2 separate regions of the Homo sapiens genome follow, and region 1 is linked to region 2. Evidence: fine-mapped expression QTL. A gene starts in region 2. The other region holds a variant in brackets. All regions are shown on one strand. Distances are from middle to middle.

The links. PIP is the estimated chance that this variant, and not a neighbour inherited with it, causes the effect. A credible set is the group of variants that fine-mapping cannot tell apart.
Region 1: its variant is the best candidate, but not a certain one, in a credible set for the expression of ADGRE3 in whole blood (TOPMed, PIP 0.73).

The regions. Positions count from the first base shown.
Region 1 is chr19:14,646,856-14,649,355 of GRCh38, forward strand. It overlaps ADGRE3 (adhesion G protein-coupled receptor E3), which reads right to left. Exons shown (of 16, transcript NM_032571.5): 8 at 326-510. Among named protein-coding and RNA genes, the nearest start is that of SNORA104, 26 kb to the left of the region's middle. The variant C/A (reference allele first, on the strand shown) is at 1,369.
Region 2 is chr19:14,673,314-14,676,244 of GRCh38, forward strand. It overlaps ADGRE3 (adhesion G protein-coupled receptor E3), which reads right to left and starts at 1,531. Exons shown (of 16, transcript NM_032571.5): 1 at 1,433-1,531. The coding sequence starts at 1,457.

The sequences.
Region 1 (2,500 bases), 27 kb before region 2:
CAACTCCTGGGCTCAAGCAATCCTCTTGCCTCAGCCTCCCGAGTAGCTGGAAGTATAGGAGCATGCCAACCTGCCTGGTTTAAATCAAGCTAATTGTTTTCTTCTTATTAAGTCTTCAAAGGCTGATTTACAAGATGTAAATCTGGAAATACTGTCTTCAAAATCTCGATTCAGACCAGCTACATTTCAAATGCTCAATAGCGACAGGTGCTCCTGACTACGACCCTGAACAGAGTGGGTCTAGAACCACAGCCTGGGATGATACACACATCGTTTGGCCTGCCTCCTTGAGAACCCACAAGCTCAAATCATACCTGTGACCCACCTTCACGTGCTGGAAAGTCAGCGTCACAGACTTGGAGAGAGACACGTTCCTTTTGGGTCCAATAGCAGCACTCACAACCTGAGAGTTCAGATACACTTGATCTTTCTTATCCATCTCTTCAAAAAAAGTTGCATTTATGATGTTTCCAAGAGAAGAATATGAGATAAAGGCAATGGCACTGGGACCTGAGGAAACAGAAAGATGGAATCTTTTTTCTTTTCTTTTCTTTCTTTTTTTTTTTTTTTTTTTGAGACGGAGTCTCGCTCTTGTCGCCCAGCCAGGCTGGAGTGCAGTGGCGTGATCTTGGCTCACTGCAACCTCCGCCTCCCGGGTTCAAGTGATTCTCCTGCCTCAGCCTCCCAAGTAGCTGGGATTACAGGCACTCACCACCATGCCTGGCTAATTTTTTGTCTTTTTAGTAGAGATAGGGTTTCACTATGTTGGCCAGGCTGGTCTCAAACTCCTGACCTCAGGTGATCCACATGTCTTGGTCTCCCAAAGTGCTGGGATTACAGGCATGAGCCACCATGCCCGGTCTGCCGTTTTTTAGAAGAGTTGTTCTCAGATGGAGCTTAAATCCTGTGATCCCTGGAGGATTCGTTTTAACAGAGTGCTGGCACCGGGCATGGTGGCTCACACCTGTAACCCCAGCACTTTGGGAGGCTGAGGGGGTGGTGGATCACTTGAGGTCAGAAGTTCAAGACCAGCCTGGTCAACATGGTGAAACCCTGTCTCTACTAAAAATACAAAGATTAGCTGGTTGTGGTGGCACATGCTTGTAATCCCAGCTACTTGGGAGGCTGAGGCTGGAGAATCGCTTGAACCCAAGAGGCGGAGGCTGAAGTAAGCTGCGATCACGCCACTGCACTCCAGTCTGGGTGACAGAGTGAGACTCCATCTCAAAGACAAAAAAAAAAAAAAAAAAGATGTTTTCCTACAAACAACCCACTTTTTGCATTTTCTGGAAACTTCAAAGTCTGGTAACACTGAGACAATGAATAATAATCTATTTCTTCCTACAAAGGCTGTAGGTACGGTGGGCA[C/A]CCTGGCTCGAATCCCTGGCATTCTTGGTTTCTTTAATATGCTGATTAATTCTGCTGTAAGCATCGGTGATTCTGCCTGGGAACTTCCATGGGCGTGAATTTGTGTTTGGCCTGCACAGAGGACAGGCTGGAAGAGCTTGAAAGTTCAGCCCCCGGAGCAACCCTCCACCAATGATAGATCAGAGCAGATGGACAGACGTCCTAGCTCCCTCTTCTCGAATGGGACAGCTCAGTGAGATTGAGCCCCAGGTACCCCAACAGCAAGCTGCTCACTCAGGTACCTACCTCATTGGCTGCCTTTACTTGCCTGTCTTACTTTGCCTCTTACCTACTGTGATAGTTCATTTTACATGTCCACTTGGTTAGGCCATGGTCCCCAGACATGAGGCATGGATGTTGCCATGAAGGTGTTTTAAAGATGAGATTAATATTTAAATCAGTAGACTGAGTAAAACAGATTGCCTGCTATAATGTGGGTGGGCCTTATCCAATCAGTTGAAGGCCTCAAGAGAAACTAGACTAAGGTCTCCTGAGAAAGAGGTAGTTCTGGCCTCAGACTCTCTTTGGATTCAAGCTGCACTATCAGTTCTACCTTGTGTCTCCTGCCTGCCTGCCCACCCTGCAGATTTTGGACATGTCGGCCTTCCATAGTCACGTGAGCCAATTCTTTAAAATGACTCTCCTCGTCCCTCCTCATCTCTTTCTTTCCTTCTCTCTCCCCATCTCTCTCTTTCCATCTCTCTCCCCCATTTCTCTCTCCCCATCTCTCTCTTTCGATCTCTCTTTTGATCTCTTTCCACATCTCTCTCTTTCCATATATCTCTCCCCATCTCTCTAATTCCATCTCTCTCTCCCTATCTCTCTTTCCATCTTTCTCCCCATCTCTCCCCATCTCTCGAATTCCGTCTCTCTCTCCACATCTCTCTCTTTCCATCTCTCTCCCCATCTCTCTCTTTCCACCTCTCTCCCTCTCTCTCTTTTCATCTCTCTCTCCCCATCTCTCTCTTTCCATCTATCTCTTTCCATCTTTCTCTCCCCATCTCTTTCTTTCCATCTCTCCATCTCGCTTTTGATCTGTCTCTTCCCATCTCTCGCTTTTGATCTCCCTCTGCCCATCTCTCTTTTTCCATCT
Region 2 (2,931 bases):
TTTAAGCCTAATGCCAGGCTAAAGTAGCTGCTTAATAAATGTAAGCTTTGATTGATATTGGGACTATCAATATTGTTAATTCATCTGGAGCTGGAAAGATGGATGGGATTTCATCCGTACAGAGATGGTGGTTGAAGCCATGGAATTAGGAGATTCCCATAGGGAGAGGGAGTAGAAAAACAGAAGATCCCAGTAAGGATCCTGTGGGAGGAGCATTATAGCAAAGATCTGGAGACAGATGGTTTGGATTCAAATCCCAGCTCTCTTATTTACTAGCTGTGTGATGTTGGACAAATAACATAACCTGTGCCCCAGTTTTCTTATCTGTAAGATGAGGATACCCCATGAGCATACTGATGATGCAACAGATTAATACATGTAAGGTGCATAGTGAGTTTTCAAAAATGTTGGTTATCATTATTTTCTTTGTATAAATTTATGGGATACAAGTGTAATTTTGTTACACGCATAGATTTCATAGTGGTGAAGTCAGGGCTTTTAGAGTATCCACCATCCAAATGATGTACATTGTAACCATTAGGTAACTTCTTATTTTCCACTGTCCTTCTACTCCCTCAGCCTTCCCAGTCTTCATCGTCTATCATTCTACTCTCTATGTCCATGTGTCCACATTATTTAGCTCCCACTGATAAACAAGAACATGAGGCATTTGTCTTTTGGTGTTTGAGTTATTTCACTTAATATAATGACCTCTAAAATTAATAATAAAATTATCATTTATTTTCTTGTCACAGGAAAATGATAAAGGAGGGAGAAGAAAGAATAGCAAGAGAAAAAGGAAAAAAGTCAGGGCAGGGCTAGTTTGCAGAAGTTATCAAGAAGGAGAAGACATCAATTAGAAAACAAAACTTGCCAAGAGGAAGATGAACAACGTATTAGAGACCGGGTGCGGTGGCTCATGCCTGTAATCCTAGCACTTTGGCAGGCTGAGGCGGGTGGATCACCTGAGGTCAGGAGTTCGAGACCAGCCAGGGCAACATGGTGAAACCCCATCTCTACTAAAAATACAAAAATTAGCCAGGTGTGGTGATGTGTGCCTGTAATCCCAGCTACTCAGGAGGCTGAGGCAGGAGAATCACTTGAACCCGGGAGGCAGAGGTTTCAGTGAGTCAAGATTGCGCCACTGCACTCCAACCTGGGTGACAGAGTGAGATTCTGTCTCAAAAAACAAAACAAAACAAACAAACAAAACAAACAAAAAACCAAGCTACTAGATTGGATAGGAACATTTTAGGGATATTCGAGAGCATACTTTGAATAGGGTAGTCAGGAAGGAAACCACACTCCAAAGGGAAAAGGTGAGAGTGTTCAGAGCAGAAGAAAGAGGAGGAGAAAATAACCAATTGTTGAACCAAGTGGTCCCTGACTGGGGGATAGGTTAAGCCTCAGTCATTGTTACAGTCACACATACCTGGAAGAAGCAATGGTCCCTGCATTTCTGTGGTACGGGTATCCCACGCCAGCCAGCCCTGGAAGCTCTCTACTGTGCCGTAAGCCAACCACCTTTCCTAGCTCAAGAAATCCCATGAGAATTGAAGTATGTATCTTAGGTCAGCTGACTCATGAAATTGCTATCAGAAAAGCAAACTGCTTCCCCTCTTTCGCCATCAGACTCATGGTTCTGCTTTTCGTTTATTTGCTGTACCTTTTCTGCCTAGCTATTGTTGATCACCTTTGGGATGATTGAGTTGGTAAACCCTAACGAGGAAATGCCCTGAAAGTTACATCACATTGTCTGAGGATTAGGAAGTGCCTTTGGGGCCAAAATAAATCTTAAATAAGCCTGTGGCTTTGAGGTGAGTAAACCAGATTTTAGGGTGTCTGTGTTGGTATCTGAAGTTTCCAGAGGAGTCATTTTAACATATCTTTCTCTTCCCCCAGTAGATGATACTTACTGGTTATGATTGCTGAGCCATAAGAAGTTAAGAGTCCCAAAGTCTCATAGAAGGTAATACATTATTTGGTTATTTGGACCAACCCTAACCAGTCACAGGACTTGGGAGAAAAAGTCTGTAAATCTACCCTTCCTCCAGCAAATATTTATTTATTTATTTATGTGGGTCTTGCTCTGTTACCCAGGCTGGAGTGCCGTGGCACAATCATAGCTCACTGCAACCTCAAACTCCTGGGCTCCAGCGATCCTCCCACCTCAGTCCTCTGAATCGTTAGGACTACAGGTGCATGCCACCACGCCTGGCTAATTTTTTTTAGTTTTTATTTTTTTTTTTGAAGAGAGACAGGGCCTCGCTTTGTAGCCCAGGCTTGTCTTGAATTTCTGGGCTCAAGCAATCCTTCTGCCTCAGTCTCCCAGTGTTGAGATTACCGGTGTGAGCCACTGCACCCGGCTCCCCTGCTTAAAACTCTTCTGAAGCTCTTCATTAGACTTAAAACACCAGACTTCCTACTGAAGCAGTGTTGTTGTCTGGGGTTCATCCTCTCATGCCAAGTAAATCAAGGATGCGGATGCACAAGAAGTGAATTTAAGGCCGAGCACTGTGGCTCACCCTTGTAATCCCAGCACTTTGGGAGGCTGAGACGGGCGGATCACCTGAGGTCAGGAGTTCAAGACCAGCCAAGCCAACATGGTGAAACCCTGTCTGTACTAAAAATACAAAAATTAGCTGGGCATGGTGGCGCATGCCTGTAATCCCAGCTACTCGGAAGGCTGAAGCGGGAGAATTGTTTGAACCCGGGAGGCAGAGGTTGCCGTGAGCGAAGATTGCGCCAGTTCCTTCCAGCCTGGGTGACAGAGTGAGACTTCATCTAAAAAAAAAAAAAAAAAAGTGAGTTTCAGAGCAGAAGTTTAACAGGCAAGAGAAGAGAAAAAAGAGAAAAGCTCTATCCTGCAGAGAGAGAGGGGCTCCCAAGTGAGTCTTCTGGTCTCGTGGTGAAATACATGGGGTTTTATAG